3 separate regions of the Homo sapiens genome follow, and regions 1 and 3 are each linked to region 2. Evidence: fine-mapped expression QTL. A gene starts in region 2. Each other region holds a variant in brackets. All regions are shown on one strand. Distances are between the middles of the regions. Region 1 overlaps DSTYK (dual serine/threonine and tyrosine protein kinase). Region 2 holds the start of NUAK2 (NUAK family kinase 2). Region 3 has its middle 34 kb from the start of NUAK2.

The links.
Region 1: its variant is fine-mapped to the expression of NUAK2 in whole blood (INTERVAL, PIP above 0.99).
Region 3: its variant is fine-mapped to the expression of NUAK2 in whole blood (TOPMed, PIP above 0.99).

What each region holds. Positions count from the first base shown.
Region 1 is chr1:205,161,933-205,172,169 of GRCh38, reverse strand. It overlaps DSTYK (dual serine/threonine and tyrosine protein kinase), which reads left to right. Exons shown (of 13, transcript NM_015375.3): 3 at 2,338-3,007; 4 at 8,215-8,447; 5 at 9,164-9,247; 6 at 9,958-10,134. Among named protein-coding and RNA genes, the nearest start is that of DSTYK, 45 kb to the left of the region's middle. The variant A/T (reference allele first, on the strand shown) is at 5,415.
Region 2 is chr1:205,316,293-205,326,529 of GRCh38, reverse strand. It overlaps NUAK2 (NUAK family kinase 2), which reads left to right and starts at 4,785. Exons shown (of 7, transcript NM_030952.3): 1 at 4,785-5,132. The coding sequence starts at 4,902. RefSeq lists a silencer at 5,099-5,278.
Region 3 is chr1:205,282,417-205,292,653 of GRCh38, reverse strand. No RefSeq gene overlaps it. Among named protein-coding and RNA genes, the nearest start is that of NUAK2, 34 kb to the left of the region's middle. RefSeq lists enhancers at 734-973, 8,057-8,156. The variant T/C (reference allele first, on the strand shown) is at 4,335.

The DNA.
Region 1 (10,237 bases), 150 kb after region 2:
GCCCGGCCAACATGGTGAAACCCCATCTCTACTAAAAATACAAAAATTAGCCGGGCGTGGTGGTGCGTGCCTGTAATCCCAGCTACTCGGGAGGCTGAGGCAGGAGAATTCACTTGAACCCAGGAGGCAGAGGTTGCAGTGAGCCGAGCTCGTGCCATTGCACTCCAGCATGGGTGACAGAGTGAGACTGCATCTCAATCAATCAATCAATAAACCTGCTGCTCAGATAGGGTAAGAAATAAAAACAGCATAATCATCTGAAAGAAACGAAATTGTGTATCTTTTAGACTTCAGACAAAGTAAATATTCAACATCTGATAACTGTTAAGGACACAAACTTGAGCATATTTGTGTTGAGTTCTTTTATAACTCTAAAATATGCTAGAATTCTATGGAGGATTGATTCTGAGTTTACAGACCCTTGAAGACATCAGGAGTCTGTGTACCTACAGTGGTAATATATTAATATGTGTGAGTCCCTAGTTAACCGTTTACACCTGGAATGCCAGGCAAAGTAGACAATGTCAGAGACACAGAGGAACAACCTGTGCAATGGATGGAAATGCAGTAGATGGACATATGCTCTTGTGTGTTTGGAACCTTCACAGGAAAGAAGCAGAACACAAAGTGGAAAGTGCAGACGAGGCAAAGGACCTGTGGAAGGTTTGTTTCTAAACCTCAAACCTCAAAGATCTTTTTTTTTTTTTTTTTTTTTAATTGAGACAGAGTCTTGCTTTGTCGCCCAAGCTGGAGTGCAGTGGGGCGATCTCAGCTCACTGCAACCTCCGCCTCCTGGGTTCAAGCCGTTCTCCTGCCTCAGTCTCTGGAGTAGCTGGGGCTACAGGCGCCCACCACCACACCCGGATAATTTTTGTATTTTTAGTACAGATGGGGTTTTGCCATCTTGGCCAGGCTGATCTCAAACTCCTGACCTCAAGCGATCCTCCTGCCTTGGACTCCCAAGGGCTGGGATTACAGGTGTGAGCCACTGCGCCGAGCTTAAAGATCATTCTCGAAACTCACTTTAGCAAACTTGGGTATTTCAGTTAGGATTAGGTTCAATTGTAACAGATCATCAAACAAACAAACACAAAAAAACCAGGAACTTAAAGATAGAGTTTTTGGGTTTTTTTTTTTTTCCTTACATGAAAGAAGTCTGAAGCTAGGTAACTGAGAGCTGGCATGGCAGTTCTGTGATCACCAGAGACCTAAGCTCCCTCTTTCTTTTGGTGTCATCATCTTTAGTGCTGGCTTCCACCATCAGGTTTGCCTTAGGGCTGCTGAGTGATCGCTGCTGTTCTAGCTGTCACATCTGTGCTCCAAGCAGGAAGAAGGACAAGGCCAAAGGACATATTTCCTGGTAGAATCCACCCCCTGTACCCTAAAGGGCTTTCCTGGAAACCCCACCCACTTATCGGATACCCCTATCTGTAAAGGACATTGCCTTCACTTATAACATGGAGACTAGATATTGGATAGGCAAACCTTGGTCTTTGCCATACCAAGTGATCGATCATATTCCTAAAGGTATTTCTTAGACTTAGGTTGCTAAGACTTCGGGATATCTACAGACTCAGAACAGGACAGTAATAATGTTTGGTGAACCTGGCTTTTCGTTTCCTGCTTAATTGATTAATTCAACAGTATTTAGGACTTACCACATGCTAGGCACTGGAGCTACGATAGTAAGCAAAATAGACCCAGTCCCTGCCCTCAAAGAGTTTACAGACCCATGGGGGAAAGAAAGGTTTTAAAGAAGTGGATTATAAATATGTTGAACCTTAAGAAGAGGGAAGTAAAGTGTGCTTGGTTGGGGCTGTGTGATAGGAAAGGCTCTATAAGGATATGTCATAACATATACATTGAAACTTAAAGGATGCTTAGGAGTTAGCCAGGTCAGAATGGCAGGGATGGAGGTGTCAGAGGAGAGCAAGAGGGGGAGGAGTGCCCCAGGTCGACTCACTCCCAGTCTGATAATTTCCATTACAATTCCTTTTTCTTCCATTATTTGTCTTAATTCTTCATCAGAGGGAATCAGTGGGAATGTCTAAGCAATAAAGGAAGGCAGAGACCAAAATTTTTTTTTAATCTGATGGCTAAAGGGGTTGCCATCCTTTCTACTTCTTTGTTTTTTCACTCTCTCTAGATGAGTGCCTGCCTTCATAGGCTGCACCAGGGAGTGTTGGTAACCGAGGAAGGAGGTGGATCAATGGCTGGGGTACCGAAGTCCAATTGTTCCATTGTAGATCAGGATTTTGGTCTCAGTGTGGGACTTTGGGGAGACAGGGATTGGTTCTGACCCTGAGGCGCTGATATATGACCCCCTTCCCCTTCCAGGAAGTGGACGTTGTGGTAGCACCATGCCAAGGCCTCCGGCCCACAGTGGATGTTCTGGGTGACTTGGTGAATGATTTCTTGCCTGTGATAACCTATGCACTCCACAAAGATGAACTCTCTGAGAGGGATGAGCAAGAGCTTCAGGAAATCCGAAAGTATTTCTCCTTTCCTGTATTCTTTTTCAAAGTGCCGAAACTGGGCTCGGAGATAATAGACTCCTCAACCAGGAGAATGGAGAGCGAAAGATCACCGCTTTATCGCCAGCTAATTGACCTGGGCTATCTGAGCAGCAGTCACTGGAACTGTGGGGCTCCTGGCCAGGATACTAAAGCTCAGAGCATGTTGGTGGAACAGAGTGAAAAGCTGAGACACTTGAGCACATTTTCTCACCAGGTGTTACAGACTCGCCTGGTGGATGCAGCCAAGGCCCTGAACCTGGTGCACTGCCACTGCCTTGACATCTTTATTAACCAGGCATTTGACATGCAGCGGGACCTGCAGATCACTCCCAAACGTCTGGAATATACTCGAAAAAAGGAGAATGAGTTGTATGAATCATTGATGAATATTGCCAACCGAAAGCAGGAGGAAATGAAGGATATGATTGTTGAGACACTTAATACCATGAAGGAGGAACTTCTGGATGATGCTACTAACATGGAGTTTAAAGGTAGGTCCCAGAGAGCTTGTTGGGGTGCTGGCACGGGAGGAGTCTCTAACCATTTTCTAGCCGGAAATTAAGAACGTTAATTCCTAAGGTTAAAGGAATCTCAGGGTAACTTCATCCACCCCACTGTTACCAGCAGGAGCCCACTATTTAGCCAAGGTGGCCTCTCTTGCTCTCAAAGATCATTGTGGAAGATTCCACCCTCATTCCTTCCCAAGAACATTAGCTCAACTTTTGGTAAATTCATCCTAATAGCTCTGTAATCTCCACTTTCTGCCTGTACCCCCTCAACCCCTAATGGAGCTGGAGAAGAGCTGCTTGGAGAATGTTAGTAAATTGTGCTTTAACCTTTGCTCCTGCAGTATGGCTCATGCCTCTTTATTGGTTCTTTTTGTCTCATGGTCTAATTTCCTTTCAGGCTGCTTCTGAAGCCCACATCAGGAGGATTTCCCAAAGTTGTGTTTTTAGCCTTTTGACAGTCCTATTCTTCACAAATGGCTACTAACAAAATTGGGTGAAAGTGATTGGTCAGGTCTTTGGGTGTCTGAGATGCTGCTGATTTTGTATACTGACTTCTGTATAAACCTCCATGCAAGATTAAAATGACATGGTTTGCAAGTTACCCTTTAGAGTCTCAGTTGTGAGTATCCTAATCCCTTGGGAGGCTTTCTGAAAATACACATGCTCAAGACCACTAAAGATGACTGCAGACTTACTCACGATTTCTGACATGGGACCCAGCATCAGTATTTTTAAAAAATAACCTCCCTAGGTAGATTCTGCTTATTTCCTTTTTCTAGATGAGGGACTAAGGCTTAGAAAGAGTAAGTAATTTGCCCAGGGTCACACAGCTAGTAAATATTAGAGGCAGGATTTGAATCCAGACAGTCTGATTCCTGAGCCCATATTCTTAATTTCCATCCTTTACTGCTTCTTAATCTGTTTCCAGTTACTGATGCCACCTTCTTCCTGGTACCCACCTTCAAAACCTCAGCATGGTCTTGAATTGTCTTCCCTTGGCTAATCAGTTGCCAAGTACTGATTAATCTTTCTTTTTTTTGAGATTAAGTCTCGCTCTGTCGCCCAGGCTGGAGTGCAGTGGCGTGATCTTGACTCACTGCAACCTCCGCCTCCTGGGTTCAAGCAATTCCCCTGCCTCAGCCTCCCGAGTAACTGGGATTACAGGCGTGTGCCACCGTTCCCGGCTAAATTTTTTTTTGTATTTTAGTAGAGACGGGGTTTCATCATGTTGGCCAGGATGTTCTTGACCTCGTAATCTACCCGCCTCGGCCTCCCGAAGTGCTGGGTGGCGTGAGCCACCACACCTGGCCTCGATTAATCTTCTTACGTATTCGATACCTATCTATGCTTTTCTATTCTGTCTTAAGTCTAACTGAACTATTGTTATCTAACTGATCTCCCTGACTTCTTTCTTCAGTTCACCTTTACTGGCTCCCTACTTCTACAGACTAAGTTTAACTCCTACACCTAGTATTAAAGACCTCCCAAAGCCTAGCCCTTACCAACTTTTCCAGTCTTATTTCCCCACTATGCACTTTCCTGTATTTTCTATGTCAGTTGGTCTTAACTTCTTTCTGTCCTCCATACGCTCCCTTTACTTTTTCTTTGCTAACACCCTGCCTTAAACCTGGAATGTCTTTGATTTGTCTGTGAACTTCCAAATCCTACCTACCCATCAGGGCCTGTCTCCCAAATGCCATTTTTCATGAAGTCTTCTTTAATTTTCTCCTTCTTTTTTTATTTTTGGGACAGGTTCTTGCTCTGCCATCCAGACTGGAGTGCAGTAGTGCAGTCATGGCTCACTGCAGCCCCAATCTCCTGGGCTCAAGCAATCCTCCTGCCTCAGCCCCCTGCACACCTGGGACTACAGGCACATGCCACCACACCAGCTAACTTTTTGTATTTTTTTTTAGAGACAGGGGTTTCACCATGTTGGCCAAGCTGGTCTTGAACTCCTGGTCTCAAGCAATCCTCCCACCTCGGCCTCCTAAAAAGTGCTGGGATTATAGGCATGAGCCATCACACCTAGCCCTGCTTTAATTTTCTTAGCTAATAACAATTGCAGTCATTTGAAATCCCATAGCATTCCATCTGTAACTTATTTCTGGCATATTTCACTTTCTATCTTTTATTATAGTTATTTATGTACTGCGGACTACTTCCTAAAATCCTAGAGTTGAAAGAGGGTAGGATCTGGGTCTTATTCATCATCATATTCCTTGCAGCAAATAACACAGACTCTTGTATACAGTACGTCTTTGGAGAATCAATGAGTGTGTGAATGATGGTATCTAGTTTAAGTTACACTTATAAATACAAAGGAAGTATGGTTGACTTTAGCAAACATAGGTTGCCTGATTTCTTATAGTCATTCTAAAGATGAACAGAG[A/T]TACCTCTTTGGTTAATTCCCCACTGCGAGAGGAGTTGTTGAGAAGTGTTACTTGCAGTGGAAATCTTAGGAAGTCTTCTCAATATTTGATTAAAGACACCAGAGCATCACTGCCGGCATCATATTACACAGAATGGAGGTCAGGACAGCTAGGTTGGGCAGACAGTAAAGTATCCGATTGTTCTTACCTTGTTCTAAGTGCTTTCTGAGTATCCTTGAAACAATAAGAAGATTTAGAAGCAAGCTAGCACATATTCTATGGAGCCAGATTTTTTTTTTTTTTTGTAAAGACGAGGTCTTGCTGTGTTGCCCAGGCTTGTAGCGATCCTCCTGCTTCAGCCCCCACAAAGTGCTAGGATTACAGGTATGAGCCATCGTGCCCAGCGTTGAGCCAGATTACTATTACTGTCTGTTTTTAAATAAAGACAATGCATATGTGCTAGGTATCATGATATTCACACTTTATAAAATTTATTTTTAAGATAAAACCTATATGTATAGTACTTAACTCAGAGTTATAAAGACACCATCCCCCAGCCACCCAGTTCTTCTCCATATGTTCTTCTGCACTTGTCTTTTTCATTTAATATGTATCTTAGAGGGCATTCCATAAATATTCATACAAATTTGTCTTCTTCTAATGGATATGCCTGAATTTATTGAACTATTCTCTCATTGGTGGACATTTAAGCTGTTTGTTTTTGTTTTTTATTTTTATTTATTTATTTTTTTTTGAGACAGGATCTTGTTCTGTCGCCCAGGCTGGAGTGCAGAGGCCTGGTCTAGTCTCACTACAACCTCCGCCTCCTGGGTTCAAGGAATCCTCCCACCTCAGCCTCCCTAGTAGCTGGGTCTAAAGGTGTGCACCATCACACCTGGGTCTAAAGGTGTGCACCATCACACCATCATACCTGTATTTAGTAGAGACAGGGTTTCACCATGTTGGCCAGGCTTATTTGTTTATTTTTTATTTTCTCTTTCGCTAATACAAAATGTACTGCATTAATCATCATTGTACATATACACCTTGGGACTTGTAAGGGTATATCTCAAGAAAAAGAATTCCTAGAAGCAAAATAGTTAGATCAAAGGGTATGTAGATTTTTCTTGGTTGGTTGAACATTTTAATAGATATTGCCAAATTTCCTCTGAAGAAGTGGCACCCATTTAAGTTTCCACCAGTAGACATGAGAGTGCCTTTTCAGGAGCACATCTTTTTGCAAGTAGTTTGACTTCTCTCAAGTTCTTCTGTCCTCTGATTTACAACATTAATAGATGTTCTAATCCTAAGAGATAGTGTGGCATGGTGGGGACAATTGAGTTTTACTTTTTATTTATCTAGTAATTGATTAGAATAAAATTCCTGGCCGGCGGCAATGGCTCATGCCTGTAATCTCAGCACTTTGGGAGGCCAAGGTGAGCGGATCACCTGAGGTCAGGAGTTCAAGACCAGCCTGGCCAACATGGTGAAACCCCATCTCTACTAAATACAAAAATTAGTCTGGCGTGGTGGTGGGTGCCTGTAATCCTAGGTACTTGGGAGGCTGAGGCACAAGATCACTTGAACCCAGAAGGCGGAGGTTGCAGTGAGCCGAGATCGTGCCACTGCACTCCAGCCTAGGCGATAGAGCTAAACTCAGTCTCAAAAAAAGCAAAACAAAACAAAACATAGAATACAATTCCTGACTCTTGGGTTTTTCTCATTAATATGCTAGGGAGTGTGAAATTTTGCAAAGATCATAGGATTTGGAATAATGAGCACTGGGTTCAAAAGCTGGCTGTATTACTTCCTAACTGTACTATTCCCTTCCCATGTCTACTTTGTTCTCTCTTTGAGGCTGTTTCCTGATCTATAATACCCATGTAACAAAGTTATTGTGAAGATGAAATTAGATTACATGTGTAAAATCCTTATTTTAGTGCCTTTCAAATAGTTTGCACTTCATAAATGTTGTTCCTCCCCTCCTATAAATGTGACATAAAAGCTAACAAAATTGCCGGGCACGGTGGCTCACACCTGTAATCCCAGCACTTTGGGAGGCCGAGGTGGGCAGATCACGAGGTCAGGAGATCGAGACCATCCTGGCCAACATGGGGAAACCCCGTCTCTACTAAAAATACAAAAAATCAGCCAGGCGTGGTGGCGGGTGCCTGTAGTCGCAGCTACTCGGGAGGCTGAGGCAGGAGAATGGCTTGAACTCGGGAGGCGGAGCTTGCAGTGAGCCGAGATTGCATCACTCCACTCCAGCCTGGGCGACACAGCGAGACTCCGTCTCAAAAAAAAAAAAAAGCTAACAAAATCAACAGTCTCATTCTAGACTTATTGCTTCTTATTTATTTTTTTTTTTTGAGACGGGGTCTCACTCCCATCACCCAGGCAGGAGTGCAGTGGCACAATCACAGCTCATTGTAGCCTCTACTTCCTAGGTTCAAGCCATCCTCCCGCCTGCCTCATCTTTTTACTTTTTGTAGAGATGAGGTCTCACTGTTACCCAAGCTCATCTTGAACTCCTGGGCTCAAGCAATCCTCCTGCCTCAGCCTCCCAAAGTTTTGGAATTACAGGCGTGAATCACTGCACCTGGACTTAATTGCTTCTTCTCAGGATCTTAGCTGCCTTTAGTAGTTGAGGGTTACGTGACCCCTGATCATTGTGAGAGTTAGACATCATCAACGAATCATGTCTTTTTGCAGCCATCATCATCACGGTAGTTCCATGGTTCTGATTTGGGAGATGACTTTATTTAGTGTGTCTGCCCCTTCTTCCTCACAACTATTCAGCTTATTTCTCTGCCTCCATAGACGTCATTGTCCCTGAGAATGGAGAACCAGTAGGCACCAGAGAGATCAAATGCTGCATCCGACAGATCCAGGAACTCATCATCTCCCGACTTAATCAGGCAGTGGCTAATAAGCTGATCAGCTCAGTGGATTACCTGAGGGAAAGCTTCGTCGGAACCCTGGAACGATGTCTGCAGAGCCTGGAGAAGTCTCAGGATGTCTCAGTTCACATCACCAGTAATTATCTCAAACAGGTAGACAAAGAATGATTTTTAAGACATCGTGTCATAGATAGCACATGAAAAATCTGCACAAGTCCACACTTCAAATTAGGCAAGAATTTCCCTTTCAGCTTCTTGCGAATCTTGTTTGAATTTTATTTTGTTTTCCTGTCACATGACCACTGCCTGTGGGAGATGTTGGTGAGCTGTAAAACTGCAGTTAAGTTGATGAATATAGGCCAGGCACAGTGGCTCACGCCTGTAATCCCAGCACTTTGGGAGGCTGAGGTGGGCGGATAACCTGAGGTTGGGAGTTGGAGACCAGCCTGACCAACATGGAGAAATCCCATCTCTACTAAAAATACAAAATTAGCTGGGCGTGGTGGTGCATGCCTGTAATCCCAGCTACTTGGGAGGCTGAGGCAGGAGAATCGCTTGAACCTGGGAGGCAGAGGTTTCGGTGAGCCAAGATCACGCCATTGCACTTCAGCCTGGGGGACAAGAGTGAAACTCTGTCTAAAAAATAAAAAAAAAAATAAAAAAATAAGTTGATGAATATAAAGATGAGGTAGAAGGGGCTAGATAGTCACAAAATAAATAATCAGCTTAAGTTGACTCTGCATATATATTGAGGGGTAAGTTTGGAAACCCTGAGTCTGGACTGTGTTCTTGAAATAAGTATCATTTATTGCATTTTTAAAATAGCCACACTACTGAGGACATGTTTTCTTTGGCGTTGTCTCTTTCAGATCTTAAATGCTGCCTATCATGTTGAAGTCACGTTTCACTCAGGGTCGTCAGTTACAAGGATGCTATGGGAGCAAATCAAACAGGTAGGGATTATTACTTAGAGAAAGATTTCAAAGCCCCTAGTTGGCTCAAATGAATCATAGTGACCCCAGTAGGAAACAGATATCTAGGATCTTCTGTTAAGGCAGGGTGACCATTTGTTCTGGTTTGCCTGCCTGGGAGAATTCTGGTTTATGCCTATTCTTAAATAATTATTAACATTGTTCCCTTGAACTCTCAGAAGTTTTGGGTTTAAATGATTTTTATGTTGGGTGCTCTTTGTGGACAATGGAAAAATAGAAAAAAAAGATAAATGATATTTCATGGAGCCATAAGACTCTACCACACTAGCTTCTTCATATTTCTTTTTCCCAGCCTAAATCTTTTCTCAGAACTAGGCTTTGTTGTTGCCAGAGGCTGTGAATGTGGTTTCTGTTCTGGAATTTGATCTGGCTCTTATGTAGAGTTATTTACTGACTTCAGAAAGATTATCAGGCACTCCCTGGCACTGAATGTAATATATTGAGGGTTTGTGAGCATGTAGACTAGGCCTGGTGTTCTTTGATGCTTTTCTCTGGGCTAGGACCTGATTTTGTGGTAGATGGAATTGGAAAGGAACTTTGGACTTCGTATGGCTCCCATCTTATGAGCCTGCTCTTAATGAATGGGTAACCCAGAAAAGGAAGGACACTGGATCTTTGTAGTGGTTCTTGTCTCTCATTCCTTGGTGATCTCGCTGTCTTCATCCTGGTAGATCATCCAGCGCATCACATGGGTGAGCCCACCTGCCATCACTCTGGAATGGAAGAGGAAGGTGGCCCAGGAAGCCATTGAGAGCCTCAGCGCCTCCAAATTGGCTAAGAGCATTTGCAGCCAATTCCGGACTCGGCTCAATAGTTCCCACGAGGCTTTTGCAGCCTCCTTGCGGCAGGTTGGTATGTAGGAAAGGAGATACAGCTGGATCAAGCAGAGAAGAGCCTCATCCAGATGGGAATATTTCGCTCTCCGCTCTTCATATATAATATGTGTGTGTG
Region 2 (10,237 bases):
TTTTTTGGGTGGGGGGGACGGAGTCTTGCTCTGTTGCCCAGGCTGGAGTGCAGTGGTGCGATCTCTGCTCACTGCAAGCTCCGCCTCCCGGGTTCACGCCATTCTCCTGCCTCAGCCTCCTGACTAACTGGGACTACAGGTGCCCACCACCACGCCCGGCTAATTTTTTGTATTTTTAGTAGAGACGGAGTTTCACCATGTTAGCCAGGATGGTCTCGATCTCCTGACCTCATGATCCGCCTGCCTCGGCCTCCCAAAGTGCTGAGATTACAGGCGTGAGCCATCGCGCCCAGCCCTTGAGGTTTCTAATTTGTCCCTGCTTAGATATTGCAGAGAAGTTAAAGCAGATTTGAAACAAAACTGAGAGTTGGTTTATCCAAATCTCCTTTTACAGATAAGGAACCACCCCTAAAAGAGAAAGTCCTTGGCCATGGCATGGTGTGGGTTGGTGGTGGAAGTGGAGCTGGACCCCGGCACGCCTGCGTCCTGTCTCTCTGCGTGTGCTCTCCCTCCCATTCCAGGATGGAGACAGGGCAAGCTCTTTGGCTTGGGGAGAAGAGCTAGCTTCTCCTTCAGTCACATCCCCTCCCAGGCCTGGTCTGTGAATAACATTCGGTTTCTCAGGGTAATTGAGAGTTTGAGGGCTGTTTTCAGTGTTTGCGGCACAAATTCTCCAAACTTCCGGCAAGACATACTAGAATTTAGAATTTAGAACCAGGGCTGGCTTAATAAATGTTAGATATCATTATAGCTGTTATTGCAATTACTCAGTCCATATTTGTTGAATGAATGAATGAATGAACAAATGAACGGTTTACTGGAGGAACAAATTGCCTAAGCCGACTTCTGCTTGTGGTCACAGCTTTGGGCATCCCATAAAACATGCTAGGCTTAGTTTGGTCAGAAGAGGGCAGCTTTGAGCTAGGCTTCCCAATTTGCCAGCGACTAACAGGATTTGCATCCCTTTCTTGGAGGGGAGGTAGGGAATACTACAGGCTGTAATTCATCCTCAGGGCTCAAGACTCATCTTAGAGGTATCTGAGATCTGCCTTACCTGCTCCCAACCCTCACGTGACCCCCATGGCATGGCCTTGGTGCCTCTCACCTCTGCTCCTACCTGCACCCTGCTCCCACCAGGACACATCACAGCAGTCCACACACTGAGCTGCTTTCAAATCCCCTTTTACCAGTCTGGACCCACCTCCACTCCCCTACAGACACACACACAAATTGTGAAGTGTGTAAGGACAAGGACAGACATTTGTTCCCACTTGTTTTCCCAGCACAGCACATAGTAGATCCAATAAACAGCTTTCCCCCATGACCCCCTCAGACATGGATCAGCCATGGGACTTGGGGCTGGGGGGTAGGCGTCTCCCTTCCAGGAGTCAATAGTGGGGCAGGCAGGATTGAGAGTAGCTTAGCTCAGCCCAGATATCTCAGCACATCCACACATCCGACCACATGACCCAGGAATTCCCCAAGACTGCTGGTGGCAGAGTCCCCGACCAACACGGATTCCCTGTCAGGCACTCTCGCTTTCCCACCAACTAGACCTCCTTTAAGGAATTTGAGATATGAGTTTCAGCAGCTTAGATCATTTCCGAGTCACATGCTGTTCTGGCTCTGTGTCTTCCTTGCCTACCTGCTGTGATCTTTGGTCACCCATGGCTCCTCACCTAGATGGGAATTCAGATTGTAGTCAAAGGAAGCTGGAGCAGGGGTGAGAAGGTCCAAGAAGTTGCAGATGATTCCCTCCCGACCATGGCCAGATAGCTGGTAATGGAGTGGGCCCAATCACATGTAGGTGCTTTTAGTTTCATCTTTGGATTCCATCGCACATCCATTCCTTCAGTTCATAAGCATCTATGGAGCGACTTTTAGGTGCCTCGCAGCACACTGGGTGTTGGGGATACCTGGAAAAAATTACAGGAGTGTAGCTAGATTAAGCCTTAAAAGAAGCGTTAAGCTCATCTGTATAATTCTTTCATCTTATGAAGAAATGTTGATTCAGCTGGCCAATTGCCACTTGTCCTTCAGGTCTCAACTTAAAAAGTCCTGGCTTTAGGAACCTGCGCCTGACCAGCCTCCTCCCACCTGGGATACATATCTTAAAGAAAATCTGAGCCGGGCGCAGTGGTTTACACCTGTAATCCCAACACTTTGAGAGGCCAAGGCGGGCAGATCACCTGAGGTCAGGAGTTCAAGACCAGCCTGACCAACATGGAGAAACTCTGTCTCTACTAAAAATACAAAATTAGCCGGGTGTGGTGGCGCATGCCTGTAATCCCAGCTACTCAGGAGGCTGAGGCAGAAGAATCGCTTGAACCCGGGAGGCGGAGGCTGTGGTGAGCCGAGATCACACCACAGCACTCCAGCCTGGGCAACGAAAGCAAAACTCCGTCTCAAAAAAAAAGAAAAGGCAATCTGTTCTTCTTCCATCATGGACCCTTCTCCCTCTGTACAGGATTTACTTGTTTATTTCTCACTAGACTGAGAACATTCCAAAGGCAGGAATCTTGTCATGATTGTGTCCCCAGGCTCAGCACCTAGTGGGCACCAGTATTTGTAGAATGAAGTAATTAGTAGAAGGCCACAGAACTGGTTAGTGTCAGAGTCAGGACTCGAACTCAGGTCCCCCAACACTCGGCCCTGTGCTTGCTCTTATGTTATCCATACTTCCTTTTGAGAATTCTAATCATCTGGATGAGCCCCCAGGAATAGAAGCAGATTTCAGAGGGGAAAGGAGATAGCAAGTCAAGGCAACTATCTCTGGGCCTCATCCTATTTGCACAGAAAACCCACAGCAAAAGGGGAGGCTGGTGGAGGGAAGAATGCCAAACCAGCTGCCACCTCCTGTGGCCCTCCAAATTTGGGAGCGATACATTGGTTTCCTGTGTAAGATGGATCCTCTCCAGTCACAAAGGAGATAAAGAGCTCCATGGAGGGATGGAGACATCTGTAACTCACACTAGAAAAATAATCAAAGGATCAGTGGAAGTAGAAAAGTGGGCAGCCACTGGGGGTGGGTCCTTCTCCATCCTCAGCATGCCCTGGATACACAGGGGAGGCACCATCCTCCTGAAGGCCTGAGGGGAAGGCTGGCTCTCCAGCATAGCTAGAATCCATCCAGGGCCCTAAACTGGCTGGCAGAAGGGGTTTCCCTCAGGGAAGAGGATCCAGGTCTATTGTCCTCTATTCTCTTCCTCAGGACCAGGGTCTAAATCCCGCCACTTTATTACCAGTTGTGTGGCCTTGGACAGAATAATACTCATTTCACAGGATTAGGTTATCAAGATGGCCAAAGGGGAAATGTTCCCTTTCTGCCATTTAAAGCAAGAAGGAAAACCTATGGCCATTCTCATTTCACTGTAAATGAGCACTCAGAGTGGAGATTCTGGACCTAGCAACTCCAGGCCTCAAAAACTAAGTCAAGCTGGGCGCAGTGGCTCACGCTTGTAATCCCAGTACTTTGGGAGGCCGAGGCGGGCGGATCACGAGGTCAGGAGATCAAGACCATGGTGAAACCCTGTCTCTACTAAAAATACAAAAAATTAGCCGGGCGTGGTGGCGGGCGCCTGTAGTCCCAGCTACTCGGAGAGGCTGAGGCAGGAGAATGGCGTGAACCCGGGAGGCGGAGCTTGCAGTGAGCAGAGATCGCACCACTGCACTCCAGCCTGGGCGACAGAGGGAGACTCCGTCTCAAGTCAAACCTCATAACCTACCACCAGTGCTCCTGGCACCAAAATCACAAGAAAACCTTGGGTGGAGCAACCATTTTCAGACTTAGGGACACAGGTTAGATAGTCGGCATGTAAAAATGTTAAATAAATATGTATCCCTTCGGGTTCTCTCCACCTCCAGCCGACACATCCTAAATAAATTCCACTAAGTGGTTGAGGGAATCTACTAAACCTTAGAAGCCCTCTTTTTTTTTGAAACGGAGCCTCACTTTGTTGCCCAGGCTGGAGTGCAGTGGCGCCATCTTGATTCACTGAAACCTCTGCCTCCTGGGTTCAAGCGATTCTTCTGCCTCAGCCTCCAGAGTAGCTGGGATTACAAGCGCGCACCACCACGCCCGGCTAATTTTGTATCTTTAGTGGAGATGGGATTTCGTCATGTTGGCTAGGTTGGTCTTGAACTCCTGGACCTCAAGCGATTCGCCTAAGAAGCCCTCTTTGAGGAAGAAGGAAGAAGTTTCCAGGGCCATTGGATTCCAATATCCAAGTAAGGTTGATCTAACTGAAGACAAGTGAACTCGAACCATAGGACAGCTCTGCACTAACCCTCCCACTAGGCTGGATTCTGCCTCTGTTCCATCCCAGCTCCCTTTCTCCTTTATGGACTCAATGAAGTGGTCAAGCAATTATAGATTTTGGCTTGGGACAAGCAAATTACTCAGGATGAAGAAATACTTTGGTGACCTTTAGTGCCCTCAGATCGCCCCTTGCCAACTGAGAACAGAGTACAATAAAACAACAGGGCATTAAGCAGGACCAAGCGCCACTCAGAGGCAAGTGCAGCTCCAAGGGCCCTCAGAGTAAGCTTCTGGGCCTCAGGCGGCCTTCGCTGGAATCCCCTAGTCCCCATTCCTGGTGGGCGGGTTCCATTGACACCTTTCCCGGCCACGCCGAGGGGGAGGAGGCGGGGCCTGGAGCCCCGGAGAGCCAATGTGGACGGCCGTGGTCACGCGCCGCCGTCGAGCAGGCCAATGGGCGCCGGGGGGCGTGTCCAGGGCCTCGGGCTCAGGGCGTTTATAACAACTTGGAATGCTGTGCTTTACTGCGCGCTCTGGTACTGCTGTGGCTCCCCGTCCTGGTGCGGGACCTGTGCCCCGCGCTTCAGCCCTCCCCGCACAGCCTACTGATTCCCCTGCCGCCCTTGCTCACCTCCTGCTCGCCATGGAGTCGCTGGTTTTCGCGCGGCGCTCCGGCCCCACTCCCTCGGCCGCAGAGCTAGCCCGGCCGCTGGCGGAAGGGCTGATCAAGTCGCCCAAGCCCCTAATGAAGAAGCAGGCGGTGAAGCGGCACCACCACAAGCACAACCTGCGGCACCGCTACGAGTTCCTGGAGACCCTGGGCAAAGGCACCTACGGGAAGGTGAAGAAGGCGCGGGAGAGCTCGGGGCGCCTGGTGAGTGCGGCTCCCTCTCGCGGCGCGGGGCGGGCTCCGGCTTGGCCGCCGGCAGGGAGCGGAGGAGGGCGGGCGGCGGCTCGCTCGTTGCTCGGCGGAGAGGCCAGCGTGGTCTTTACCGCGCTGAGCTTGCGGGGCTACTGCGGGGTGTCCCTGGCAGATGTGTCAGTCCGTGATTGCAGGGACAGTGGTCGCAAACTTGCGAACCCCAGCCAGCAACACCGTACTGCTGTGATGATTGCCAAATAAAAGGGAGGCTATGGATAGTTGGCGCGGAAAAACGAATCGTGTCGTGTCCTGGGATAAGATGGATGGGACTTAAGTTGAGTTTTGCTGGGAAAAGACTGTTCAATAGAGTGCAATGGAAAGAGGAAGTAGAAGGCACCCCATCTTAATAGGTATTTGGTAAATATGTGTGTGGTTGAATGAATGGATGAGGTGTGGATTTCCCCAACTCCAAGAATCTGGCAACCCAGCACACTGGAGCTCTGGCACGGGGTGGGTTTTGACATTTAGGTCCTTTCCAGCTCTAAAATTTAGTTGAAATTTCATTATGATGAGTTTTTGATTCTGGAAAATGTGAAACCAGGTCCACTGTACCAGAGACACCTTTCGGTTTGGGGGCCTTTTCAAGAACATGCCCTGTTACTTTGGTGCGAGCGTAGGAGTCTAGCAGTCTGTGTGACCTTGGGCAATTTCCTTCATCTCTGTACTTTGTTTCCCCTTTTGCAGAACTGTAGAAAACACAGCCTGCCTCACAAGCTGCTGTGAGGATTGAATAAGATCGAAATATGAACTTATATTGCTCCTAACACATAGAACTTGCGGTGAGATAGCCGGGCGCGGTGGCTCACGCCTGTAATCCCAGCACTGTGGGAGGCCGAGGCGGGCGGATCGTGAGGTCAGGAGATCGAGACCATCCTGGCTAACACAGTGAAACCCCGTCTCTACTAAAAATACAAAAAATTAGCCGGGCGTGGTGGCGGACGCCTGTAGTCCCAGCTACTCGGGAGGCTGAGGCAGGAGAATGGCCTGAACCCAGGAGGCGGAGCTTGCAGTGAGCCGAGATCGTGCCACTGCACTCCAGCCTGGGCAACAGAGCGAGACTCCGTCTCAAAAACAAAACAAAACAAAACAAAACGAAACAAACAAAAAAAGAACTTGCAGTGAGAATTTCTGGAAAGGGCAGCCCAGAAAGGATGGCAAATTTGTCAAAAGTTAGTTAGCAGTGGTTAACTGGTTCTCAAACTTGAGTTTAAAGTACGTAAGGATCACCTGGGATGTTTGTTTAAAATACTTACATTCTCTGGTTCCACACCCAGAGTAATTTATTCTGAAGGTCTAGGATAGGGCCATATAATGTATATTTTAACAAGCCTTTTAGAGCAGGTGGTTTAGGCATTATTATGTTTTGCCAAATCCAGTTGGGTGCTGGTTGTGAGGGGGTGTGTGTGTGTGTGTGTGTGTGTGTGTATGGTTTGCCCTATTGGCTACATCAGCAGTTACTTCCCCAGATTGTGTTTGCTTTTGCAGCCAGTAGCTGGTTTGAAATTCAAGAAGTCATTTCATTGGTGAAGGAGAGTGGATGTTGGAGAAAGGGGTAGATTATGGCCCCATCAATAGGACCGAGTATGTTTTTCCTGCTATCGCCTGGCACAGTCCCCAGTTGCCTGCTGCCAGGTTACAGCTATTGGGCAATCATGTACTTCCTGGCTTGCCTTTTCTTTCTCTTTCTGCAAAGTGTGAGGGCCCGGTGAGGCTCCAGGCTTGAGGCTGTTGGACCCAGGCTTTGTCAGGGGCTTAGCTGGAAAATAGCTGCTGGTGGCTTGTGCTTCGTGCCTCTTGGGGGTGGAGACACTGGGTCGTGGGGACTGGGGTGGCCCAGAGACTGAGAAACTGAGATTGAAGTTCAGAGTTCCCATCAGGCTCTTGACCCAGGTCACTGTGGGGTGTGTGTGTGGATGTGCATGAGAGAGAGAGAGTAAGAGAGAGATCTCATTTGATTCCAGAATGAGATAAACTAGCTTTCAGTTTTCAAACTTAAGTGGATTTAGGCAGGGATTCCAGCTCTTATTACATCAGAAGATACTCCCTGGCCTCATGCCTCTTGCTCTATGTAGGAAGCCAAGATCAGTAGGCATGGGACCTGCTGTGAACCTCCCTGATCCATAGACCACCCAGTTCTGCAGCTGGGAACTTGCTCAGGGTCTCCTTCCTTCTTGGAGAGCAGCTGCCTGCTGTGCTAATGGTTTCTCAATTCTGGAGCATTGCCTCTTCCCCACCCCACCCCACCCCTGCCTCTTGACTGTCCTTCGTGAATCGAGAGAGACCTAGTGCCTCAGGATACTTCAGTGCGGGAGAGGGGTGTGGGAGCTTGCCCAAGACCTCCCCTAGAATGAATTGAGATTGTTGGTGGGAGCTAGATTCAGAGGAAAGCCAGCTGGGTGACTTCCATCCCAATTTTCTCTCCACCTTTCTAGCACACTTCCCGCTCCCAACCTGCCTAGATGGGATTATCAGGGCCAGATGGGATTGGCTGAGGGAAGGGCAGGTGGGCGGAACTAATGGCTGCTCTAGGAGGACATCAAAGGAAAAACAAATATTTGCTCTGGCTCTTCAATACATTCCTGGTATCCAAATGACATTTCCTCCTGGGACTCACCCAGCTCCCCTGGCCACCCCTTCCCCTAAAGAGAAAAACACATGCTGGGGTCTCTGAAATGGTGGAGTCCACCAAAGCCTTTGGATGATCTGCATGGAAGTCTTACCTCCAAGGGGAACCATTAGGGCCGTGAGTCCAAGTGTATGGTGCTCTGGAGCAAGAGTGCTTCTGTCTTTTTTATGTTTTGGAGTGCAGTGCAGGATTTCAAAATGTTTGGAAATGACTGAGGTGGTCCGAGTCCTTCATTGACAGATAGAGTAGCTGAGGCCCGAAGAGGGGAAGTGACTTATCCTGTAGCTGGTGAGTGGCATGCCTGCAATATGGGCTCCTGGATGACCAAGTACTGAGTCCTAGACTGGGAGTTGGTCTTGAGATGAGCCCAGGCTTGCCTCAGTGTGCTTTGTTATTCCAACAGTTAGCTCCCGCTGTCTTTCCCAGCACTACAGGCAGTGCTTCAGGTGGGAAGAGTCACTGGGAACCAACCCCCACCCTCACATACAGTGACTGTGTTGAAGGATTCTGGGTGGGTGAACTACACTATATTCCTGGGTTTCAAACCTTGTTGGGGATGCTGCCTAGCTGACAGTCAAGGTTGCAAGCATTCAAATCGTGGCTCCATTGCTTACCAGCTGTGCAACCTCTCTGTACCTCAGTTTCCTTATCTGTAAAGTAGGGGTGATAATTATTCCTACCTCGTGGGATTCTCTTAGGATTAAGTAAGATAGCATATGTAAAGTGCTTAGCACAGTGTCTGACACACACAGTGTTATTATCCCAGCAAGGCTGGCTTTGATGAAGTCCTGCCCTTCCCTTTCCTGGGGAATCCCTGCGTCCTGGAGGTCTGTCCTACCCTGAGAAAGAGTATGGATTGTGCTTGGCTTCCCTAAGCCAAACCACTTTGGTTGCTGCTTTGTTCAAAGTCCTCGTCTCTCCTTCGGCCCCAGCTCCAGAGAAGGACTCCTGCCTGGCTGGCTGCCAAGGGCTTGCTTGGCAGGACACTGCCCTCCCAGCTCCCTCTGCACCTGCCTGCTAAGCGGCAGGGAGGGAGGCTGCAGGCCACTCTTGTCCTTGAGCCCCAGCCAAACCACACAAGAAGGCTGGGCAGGGAAGCTCCTTGCCCAGCAACCCGGTAGAGGGGGCTGGAGGATGGCAAGGAGGGGGCAGCACAGTATAGGGAGGTGGCTCAGGCTCCCCTTGGAGCCCATTCCTGATCCCTGCCTAGCTCTCTGGCTGGTGTGGTGGGATGGCGAGCCACCCCTAGGCCCACCCCCACTCTGCCCAGCCTGGGCCAACCCAGCCCAACCTCTCCTCCGTTATCTAAATGGGTCATCCCCTAGCTCCTTGCCCTGCCTCCCAGACAGCAGCTGCTCCACAAAAGGCCAGAGAGAAATCAAGGATCTTGGCTCCAGCTCTGGGTGATAACTATGACCAGAGATGCCCAGCTTGCACCTTCTCTCCCTCCACCTGGAACCAGCATCTCTGGATCTTCTTTTTCTAAGACCTTTCTACCATCCTCTCCTGAATCCAGATCGTTCCTGATCTGAGTCCCTGGGAGGGAGGCAGTGTTTACCAATTGAGCCACAGCACCTACCTCTCCAGGGTGTTGGCAGAGGAGTGGGCATATTTGTATATCTGTAAGTGGGATGGGGTGGCTGGTGATACTACACAGCCTGGCCTAGGGCAAGATATGGGGCATTCCCTTCTCCAGGGATGGGAGGCAGGCAGGGAAATCTCTATGGCTGAGATGGAAGCTTCTCCAGGCACCATCCTTCCATCTTCAGTCCTGATTGTGTCTTGATGTGTTGTGGAACCTTGGAAAAGTCAGTGTGCCTTTCTGGACTTCAGTGTGTGCTGTTTGCAAAATAGAATGAGGAATTAACCCTGCTGCCTTTTCCAATGTTTAGGACTGCAGGGGCAAGAAAACCACTGGGACAGAATCAGAAATTATGCTCAAGCAGGCTACCGTGGCCATAGTATGGGGCTGCTTATAATAATACTTGGCTAGCACCTTCCTGGCATAGTAGCAGGTGGCCCATTTCTGAAGAAGTTCAGCATAGAATTCTAGAGTTTGGAAGGGTGCGTAGAGATCCTGATGTGCAAATTCGTGAATGGCTCTTTCTTTTTGGCCTTTGTTCAAACCTTTCTTTCTGTCTGGAATGCCCTTGTTGCCCCTCCCTAGCCCACCTCCCTTGGCTTAGCAAACCTCACTCATCCTTCAAAATCGAAAGCAGTTTTTCTCCCAGAGGTGGTTTCCCTGCTCCTCCTATGGGCAAAGGAAGTTCTCTCCAGTGCTCTTGGAGCCTCTCTGCAGGCAGGGACATCAACTGCCACATTTATCACAATAGAATGGAGTTTAATTAATTGTCAGTCCTCCCACTGGACTGTGGGACTGTCCACTTTTTATCTGAATCCCTAACACCTAGCACAGTGCCAGCCAGGCACA
Region 3 (10,237 bases), 34 kb after region 2:
GGGCCCAGGGGCAGAGTTAGTAGAGCAGATATTTGAGAGCCCAAGTCATTCCTCATAAGCAATGTTAGCCTTGCTGTCCCAGCCCTTGCTGGAAATGCCCACGAGGGTCAGAATGGGCAGACAGACTGGGCGTGGTGGCTCACACCTGTAATCCCAGCACTTAGGGAGGCAGAGGCGGAAGGTAGCTTGAGCCCAGGAGTTCAAAACCTGCCTGGTCAATATCTCAAGACCCCATTCTCCACAAAAAGGGGGAAAAAAAAGAATAGGCAGACAGATGCCAGGTAGGGGTGAGGAGTGGAGTTGGTCAACTCCCTCCCTCGCCAGTCATGGTTGGGGGTGGGGTGGGCAGCACACGGCTGGCTCCTTGACCCTGGCCTCCCACCAGGCTCACCCATTCTGTCTTTCCGCCTAGCAGGGTTGACTTTCTTTAGATGCCTCTTTAAGGCTCCAGGAACACAGAACTGCAGTTCTGTCCTTCACAGCTAAGTCAGCTTGGTCCACCTCACAACTGAGTCCCATACCCAGGCCTTTTGGGGCAGTCTCTCTAGCCCCAAGATTCCCCACATCTGCACCACTCATCTCAGAAAAAAGAACAGCTTGGAATTACATTAAATTATGTGTGTGGTGTCACATCATCCCCCATCCCAAATTAACTTGCGGGGCAAAGGAGTAGATACCGATCACCACTGAAGTCTCTGGCATTGTGCTAGAGCACTGGTTCTCCAAGTGTGGTCCAGGAACCCCTGGGGGAACCCCTGGGGGCTCCCCAAATCTTTTCAGAAGGTACACACAGTCAGAAGTGGGGTTTGTTGTTGGTGGTGGTGGTGTTATGAGACAGGGTCTCGCTCTGTCACCCAGGCTGGAGTGCCGTGGTGTGATCATGGCTCACTGCAGCCTTGACTTCCTGGGCTCAGGTGAGACCACAGGCACGTGCCACCACCCCTGGCTAATTTTTTGTACTTTTTGTAGAGACAGGGCCTTACTATGTTGCCCTCGAGGCTGGTCTCGAACTCCTGGACTCAAGTGATCCACCCAACCTGGCCTCCCAAAGTGCTGGATTATAGGCCTAGAACTGTTTTACTAATAATAAGGAAACATCATTTGCCTTTTTCACTCTCATTCTCTCATGAGTGTACAGTGGAGTTTTCCAGAGATTCACGGTGTGTGATATTACAACATACCAAATGCAGCAGTTGGAGGTATAAGAATCTACCTCTGCACAATTGTGTGAATATATTTATTTATTTTTTTGAGGCAGAGTTTCACTCTGTCGCCCAGGCTGGAGTGCAGTGGCGCAATCATGGTTCACTGCAGCCTTGACCTTCTGGTCTCAATTGATGAATATATTTAACACTATTGAACTATATGCTTAAAAATGGTTAAGATGGGCTGGGCACGGTGGCTCACGCCTGTAATCCCAGCACTTTGGGAGGCTGAGGCGGGTGGATCACGAGATCAGCAGATTGAGACCATCCTGGCTAACACGGTGAAACGCTGTCTCTACTAAAAATACAAAAAATTAGCCGCTCGTGGTGGTGGGCACCTATAGTCCCAGCTACTCGAGAGGTTGAGGCAGGAGAATCGCTTGAACCCAGGAGGCAGAGCTTGCAGTGAGCTGAGATCGCACCACTGCACTCCAGCCTGGGCGACAGAGTGAGACTCAGTCTCAAAAAAAAAAAAAAATGGTTAAGATGGTAATTTTATGTTATGTTTTTTAACATAATTTAAAATTGAAAAATCAAAAAATATTTGTAAAATAATGTAGAACAATGCCACTCTCCTCAATAATTTTTTTTGTTTTGAAAAATTATTTTTTGTACATATGTACATAATGAGATATTACTGTTATCTTAATTCCTGCTTTTTTTTCTTTTTTTGAGACTTACTCTGTCACCCAGGCTGGAGTGCAGTGTCGTGATCTCGGCTCACTGCAACCTCCGCCTCCCAGGTTCAAGTGATTCTCCTGCCTCAGCCTCCTGAGTAGCTGGGATTACAGGCATGTGCCACCATGCCCGGCTAATTTTTGTATTCTTCTTTTTTTTTTTTGAGATGGAGTTTTGCTCTTGTTGCCCAGCCTGGAGTGCCATGGTGAGATCTTGGCTCACCGCAACCTCCACCTCCCGGCTTCAAGCGATTCTCCTGCCTCAGCCTCCCAAGTAGCTGGGATTACAGGCGCCTGCCACCATGCCTGGGTAATTTTTGTATTTTTAGTAGAGACGGGGGTTTCTCCATGTTGGCCAGGCTGGTCTGGAACTCCCGACCTCAAGTGATCCACCCGCCTTGGCCTCCCAAAGTGCTGGGATTACAGGTTTGAACCACCGCGCCTGGCCTTAATTACTACTTTTAAAATGTCTGTTTGCCTTTCTAATATGGTAAATACCAGTAGCTATCATTCACCCACATCAACAAAGCTTCTTTGGGTGTCCTCAATAATTTCTAACAGTGTAAAGAGATCCTGAGATCAAAATGGTTGAGAACTGCTGCTTTCATGCGAAGGAATACAAGGTTGGGTGCAGCGACTCACGCCTGTAATCCCAGCACTCTGGGAGGATGAGGCGGGTGGATCACTTGAGGCCAGGAGTTCAAGACCACCCTGGGCTATATGGCGAAACCCCATCTCTACTAAAAATGCAAAAATTAGCTGAGCATGGTGGTATGTGCCTGTAATCCCAGCTATCTGGGAGGCTGAGGTGGGAGGATCCCTTGAGCCTAGGAGGTTGAGGCTGCAGTGAGTTGAGATCACACCACTGCTCTCTAGCCTGGGTGACACAGTAAGACTGTCTCCAAACAAAAAGAGAAGGAATACAGCAGGCAGGGGGTTGCCAGATAAAAGAAAGGATGTCCAGTTACATTTGAATTTCCGATAAACAATGAATTTTTTTTTAGTATAATATTACACAGGACATGCTTAACTAAAAAGTTATTCATTTTTTTTTTTGTTTTTTTTTTTTTTGAGACGGAGTCTTGCTCTTTTGCCCAGGCTGGAGTACAGTGGTACAGTCTCGGCTCACTACAACCTCCGTCTCCTGGGTTCAAGCAATTCTCCTGCCTCAGCCTACTGAGTAGCTGGGATTACAGGCGCACGCCACCACACGCGGCTAATTTTTGTATTTTTAGTAGAGATAGGGTTTCACCATGTTGATCAGGCTGGTCTCGAACTCCTGACCTCATGATCCGCCCACCTCAGCCTCCCAAAGTGCTGGGATTACAGGCATAAGCCACTGCCCCTGGCCTTCTATTCATTGTTTATCTGAAATTCAAATTTAAATGGGTGTTCTGTGTTCTGTATTTTTACTTGCAAAATATGGCAACCCTAATAGCAGGAGAGATTTGGGTTAGTCAACAGGATGAACTTGGATCAGATATTGGGATTCTGACCCAGGGAAGGATGGAGAATCCCCTATTCTGGACAGCTTTAAAAAAGGAGAATGTGGGCCAAGTGTGGTGGCTCATGCCTGTAATCCCAGCACTTTGGGAGGCCAAGGCAGGCGGATCACCTGAGGTCAGGAGTTCAAGACCAGCCTGACCAACATGGAGAAACCCCGTCTCTACTAAAAATACAAAATTAGCCGGGTGTCGTGGTGTATGCCTGTAATCCCAGCTACTTGGGAGGCTGAGGTAGGAGAATCGCTTGAACCCAGAGGGCGGAGGTTGCGGTGAGCTGAGATCACACCATTGCACTCCAGCGTGGGCAACAAGAGCAAAACTCTGTCTGGAAAAAAAAAAAAAAGAAAAAAAAGGAGAATGTGGCCAGGTGCGGTGGCTCACACCTATAATCCCAGCACTTTGGGAGGCTGAGGTCAGGAGTTCAAGACCAGCCTGGCCAACATGGAGAAATACTGCCTCTACTAAAAATACAAAAATTAGCCAGGTATGGTGGCACATGCCTGTAATCCCAGCTACTCAGGAAGCTGAGACAGGAGAATCACTTGAAGCTGGGAGGCAGAGGTTGCAGCGAGCCAAGATCGTGCCACTGCACTGCACTCCAGCCTGGGCAGCAGAGTGAGACTCTACCTCAAAAAAAAAAACAAAAAAAAAAAGCAAAAAAAAAGAAAGGTGAATGTGTCTGAGGACTGAAGGGCAAGCCTCTAAATGCTTAGGGGTAGAGTTTATAGTCAGAGGGACCTTCCTGCAGCTGGGCCAGAGACTCACCCACCCTCTAGAAACCTCAGCAGCTGAGGATGAACAAAACCCACAGGAAGTGGTGGAAGTGAAACTTGGTGTCAGTGTTGTTGTTATTAAAAGGGGGAAGTGACACCGGGTGAGTGAAGGGTGGGTGGAGGTGAAGTCTCTATAGGCAGCGAGGTCATTCGGCAGCGCCCCCCTTCCTGCTC[T/C]GCTAAGAATAGTTACGGTTGTGATAGGGGTGTGGTTTGTCTGAGGCTGGGGGAATGAATCTCGCTTGATGTCTGGATGGGGCAGAGCAGAAGTAGCACTGGGGTGGTCAGAGCTTCAAGTCAGGTGGCAGCAAAACCTAAGAAGCATTTTTGGGTTTGGAAATAAACAAATAAGTGGCCTCAGAAGCAGCTCAGAGGAGAAGGATCCTGCCTTCCAGCTAAGAGAACTATAAGAGGGAAGCAGGGCCCATGACCATGACAGTCCCTCCTCTAGTCAGCTTGGGAAGCTCTGAGAAGCTCTTTCCATTAAGAGAGTCAGGGATGCTCCAGAAATCAGGCTGGCAGGGAGGCTGCAGTGCGTTTTTGTCTCTAGCACTTACTGAGCACTTACTGTGTGCTTGACATTGTGCCAGGCCCTGAGGCTCCAGAATTAAATACAGTGTGGTTCCTGCGCTCCAGAGGTTGGAAGTCCAGTGGAAGAGATATGCATCAAACTAATATAAATTCATGAATTCATTGTGATCAGAGGTAATAGTTGAAAGCCCAAGCAGCAGCCTACCTACTGTGAGCCTGAGCCCACCCCTCAGCAACTCCCCAGCCCTGGCCCAGGCTGCAAACCAACAGAGGCCGGAGTCACCCAGCTGCCTGCAGAGCAGTGCATCAAGTCAGGACCCTTTCTCTGCCCAGACGTCTTTGCCAACTGTTTGGAACAAAGGGAAATCATCTGGTTTGGGGAAAGACATAAGAATGACCGTTTTCTTTCCTAAACCTTCACCCTCTCCCATTTCGGCCTGAGAAAAGCTGTTAGATGCTTCTTCAGAGGGTTTCTAAGGGCCACAATTGCCTTCCACCTAAGAGGGAACAGGGTGGGGAGGGGTGGCAATGGCCTTCTTTGACCGCAGAGGTTTTGGATTTAGCCTGAAGTCACAGAACAACTGAAGCCAAGAGACAGTTCACCCTTTCTGGTGTCTAGAGCTTATTGAACAAATGTCCATTGACCCCCTATTGCTAGGGGCAGGGGTGAAATATTGAGTTGAGTCCAGGGCTCCAGCCTACTAGAGGCACAGTCTGTAGAGAAGTCAGATAATGACCAGGCGGTGCCTAAGCTGGATCTGAATCCAGGGCCTTTAGTCATCAGACACTGGACAGATTCTTCGTGGAGGGAGTTGGGCCTTGAAGGCTGAAGAGTTTTCTGGGTCAAGTACATGTTTAGGGAGCAAGAATTCCTTGGAAACTTAAAAACTGGTCTCCCATGGTCAAGTCTGGCTCCTGTATGTGAACATCATACACACAGAACATGGCTCTGTATCCTGACTCCTATGCACCCCCGGCCACATTGTATACTCCTGCTTGTATGCTCCTGGCCAGTGAGGTGTCTGCAGTCTTGGGACAAGTGGTGGCCAGGGAGTCTTTGTCCCCTGGGTTCCTGGGGTTCAGGCTTCAGGTCTGGTTTCTGCCGTTGCCCCTCCTCTGGTTCCCTCCTTCTCACAAGACACAGCCTGACAACCTGGCCTTCTCTCTGCCTTCGTTAGGAGGGAGGCTGCTCAAACCACAGCTCACCACAGCTCACCACAGCTCACCACAGAGGCCAAGCTGGGTGTGCCTCTGTGGAGCAGCGGCAGGAGCCGGCTGAACACAGCCAGGACCAGTTTCCCCAGGGGCCAAATGCAACCTGTTCTCCATTGCATCTTCCCCACTGGTGGGCAAATTGTGTTGGGCTTCTGTGAGGCCCCATGAAGGTAAGAGAGTCTGGAGTGACTTTGCCCAGATTGGCTGTGTGACCTTGAGCAAGTCACTGGACCTCTCTGGGCCTTGACCTCCTTTATTCGATTATAATCCAGACCCTAGGGTCTATCCCAGCAATGTACGTGAACGTGTATTGTGAGTTGTCGAGCACAGCACTCGTGTGAGAGGTTATTACTTTATTACTTTGAATTTGCCCTGAGCCCCACAGTTTGAATAGGGAGGCTGCCTCAGAATTTATTTTTGAGTATCAGCTTCCAGATGGAAATTCCTAACCTGGGGTCTGAGGATGGTCTGCAGGGAGTCCTGGTGTCATATAGAGAATTTTTGAGTAGATGCGTTTTTCTTGGAAGAGGATGCAGAGTTTTCATCAGACCATTGAGGTCTGTTAAGAGCCACCATCTGAGCCCTAGGGCTCCCTCCATGGGGGGCAGGCAGAGGGGCCTCAAATCCTTGGTGGCCGTATTCATGAACCGAAGTGACCTGCTCAACAAGGACATGCCTATGTGGGTCTGAAAATACCGGCAAGCTAACAGAGCTCATGAGAACCACAGTGCCAGAGCCTGCGAGGTGAATTTCATTAGCACCCTCTGTGCTGGCCTGACCTTAGCTGGAGCACTGCGCTCTGTTCAAAACAACATGCTTTTTGTGGTTTTTTTTTTTTTTTGGTTGGTTAGTTTCGTTTTTTTAGAGATGGAGTCTCACTCTGTCGCGTAGGCTAGAGTACAGTGGCGTGATCACAGCTCACTGCAGCCTTGATCTCCCAGGCTCAAGAGCCTTGATCTCCCAGGCTCAAGCGATCTTCCCACCTCAGCCTCCCAAGTAGGTGGCCCATGTCTTCACGCCTGGCTTTTTTTTTTTTTTTGGTGAGAATCAGTAATTTTTTTTTTTTTTTTTAACTAGAGATGGGGTCTTGTCATCTTGCCCAGGCTGATCTCAAACTCCTGGACCCAACTGATGCTCCTCCCTCAGCCTCCACTTTGAGATTACAGGCGTGAGCCACTGCACCTGGACAAAGACATAATGTTTTAAGAAGAACTTGGGTAAATGGAAATGTTTCCAGAGGATACAGGCCAAGCTGTCAAAAGGTCTTAAATCCATGTCTTAGGAGAAATGACTGAAAGAACTAAGGGTATTTGGCTTGCGGCAAAGAATATAGGTTAGATGGGGATTGGAAGTGCGTTAACTTCTTGAAATACTGCCTAGTGGAGTCTACCCGGGAGGCAGATAGAAACTTAGCAAAAGGAAATACTTTCCAACAGGGAGCCCTGTCCCTCCTGGAATGGAATAGGACTTTCCTCTGCCTCACATACTTGGTTTTGCAGGAAGGAATAAATTGCAGACAGGATCCAAGCTCTATCTAAGAAAGGAACAAATAAATGACAATGACCACTTCCCTAGGGTTTGGGGAGACTGGGTGATGCCTTGTGGGTCAGGGCAGGGGAGTACAGGCTGGACTTGGGCCCCTGCAGCCTCTATCTCCTTCACAAAGGAGTCTGCTCTGTCTGCCTGGGTCTGCAGCTGTCAAACTCCTCCCTCTCCACTTCACAACCCTCTGATGTGGTGTTGCACAAGCAGGGGGGGAGCCAGGTTGGGTGAAGAGAGAGGAAGCTGGCGGCCCTGGGAGGCTGGGCTGCAGCTCCCTTGGAGGACAAGCTAAGCTGTCATGGGCCAGGCTGGAGGGGTGGGGAGGGGAAGATGGCTCACTGGTGAGTCATGGTGGCCATTGTCTGCTCCTGCTCCCTCTGGGGGAGGGCGACTGAAAGAGACAAGCCCTCTGGCCAGCTGGGCCTGTGAGGGCAGGTTTTCCACTCTTGTCCTCACAGCTCTGAGAGCAGCTGGGGTTTGGCTCCCTTACCCTGATTTCCCATCATGCAGCAAGGCAGGGCTGGTGGCTGACATTAGATGGATGTTGAGGGGAGGGTGTCCAACCCCGCTCACACCTTGCTAAGGGGCTCAGGATGGTCACACAGTGGATCCTAAAGGCCCAGGCTGGGGGAGAAGCTGTCCTGCCCTGTCTGGCATGGCAGACGATGCAGGCAGGCGTGCCCCTCTCTAGTGATCACACTGAACCTGAGCGGCACACCTTCCCCACCGCACCCTTCCTAAACCTCCTTCCAAACCTGCTCCCATCTAGCAGGCCTGTCCAGCACCCCACCCTCCCTCAGGGCCCCAGGGGAGCCTGCAGAGAGTGAGGTCACTCTGGATTGGTGCCTGGAGGCACCACCCTTGCCCCTCACCACAACCTGGTCTGGTCCGAGTGGCAGGGCCTCCATCCTGCCCCCTGTGAAGCCCAAGTTTGGGTCCCTGATAACTCCTAAGGCTGACGTCACAGAAGCACAGAATGACAGACTGTCAGGGTTATTGTATGTTGGGGAAACTGAGGTTCACAGAGGTCAGACACATGCAGCAGGGGTGCCCAGTCTGCAGTGGGCAGGTGGGGAAGGGAAGACTCCCTGGTGGGGGACTGCTGTGCTCCCAGGCCCTAGCAGGCCTCCAACTTGGGGACAGTCTGAGTTTGGGGCCACCTTACAGTTCCCCTGCCGCTGCCTCCGTTGCTGCTTCATTCTCGTTTGGGCAGAACAAAGGTGTTCCAGAGCTCAGGGGGTGAGGTGAGGAAAAGAGCTACCTTGTGTGGGCGGCTGTGTGGCTTTGGAGTCGACAGATGTAGGTTAGAGCCCGCATTCCTCAACCTTCTGGTGGCTGGACCCTGAGAGTTGCCTAGATCTCATTTCCCATCTGTGAAGTGACAGTAATAAGCATCTTACAATGCAAAATGCTTTGCATATGTCGTCTCATGTATCTTTGAAGAGGGACAGAATATGCCACACCAAAATATGCCATTTCAGCATAAGGGTTACTCTCACTTGAAAAACAGCTGATACAAAAGACAAACTCTGACCTCCTCCCTTTTCTCCCTGTCCCCGGGGGGAAAGAAACGTTTTTGTCACCAGAGATGAGGAGTTGAGGCTGAGGCAAATTTGTACAAAAGGATAAAATACCTCTTACCTTCCTTAGCGTCCCTAATCATCCTTTTCCACAGTCGCCTCTTTCTTTCCTTCTTTCTTTCTCTTCCTTTCTTTCTTTCTCTCTCTCTCTTTCTTTCTTTCCCTTCCTTCTTTCTTTCTTTCTTTCTTTCTTTCTTCTTCTTTTTTTTTTTTGAAACAGAATCCCGCTTTGTCACCCAGGCTGGAGTGCAGTGGCATGATCTCGACTCACTGCAACCTCCGCCTCCCAGGTTCAAGCAGTTCTCCTGCCTTAGCCTCCTGAGTAGCTGGGATTACAGGTGCATGCCATCACGCCTGGCTAATTTTTGTATTTTTAGTAGCGACGGGGTTTCACTATGTTGGCCAGGATGGTCTTGATCTCCTGACCTCATGATCCACCCACCTTGGCTTCCCAAAGTGCTGGGATTACAGGCGTGAGCCACCGCATCCAGCCTAACAGCCCTTTGTCTTCTAGTTGCTGAGATCATAGGGTGAGGTCCTTGGCCATGGTCAGGTGTACTGGGCACTGCTGGACAAGGGACACTTAAACGAGGTAACAGAAAGGACTTTCTGCTTTGGGAGGCCGAGGTGGGAAGATTGCTTGAGCCCAGGAGTTCAAGACCAGCCTGGGCAACATAGTGAACTTCATCTCTACAACGTAGTGAGACTTCATCTCTACAATAAAAAAACAATTAGCCGGGTGCATTAGTGGGTGTGGTCCCACCAGCTACTCGGGAGGCTGAGGTGGGAGGATCGCTTGAGCCCAGGAGCTCAAGCCTGCAGTAAGCTGAGATGGTGCCACTGCACTGCAGTGAGACCTTATCCCCCCCAAAAAAAAGACTTTCTGGCTGGAAGGCTAACGAGGCGCTGGGATGGGTGAAGTGTGTGATGATGGGTGTGTCATGGAGCCGAGAGAGCTCTGCCTGCTGATCCAGCTCGCCTCTGGCAGTTTGTTGCTCTGTACTCTTCCTCAGATCCTGACTTTATTTTGGCACTTACCAAGCTCTCTTGTCACTGACCTATTTTCATCTCTGTCTTTCCCGATAGATTTCAAGATGTTCACGCAGAGTCTGTCGAGCTCACCTCTGGATACCCCAGCTCCTACACGAAGCAAATGTTTCTTTTTTTATTTTTTGAGACAGTCTCACTGTGTTGCCCATGCTGGAGTGCAGT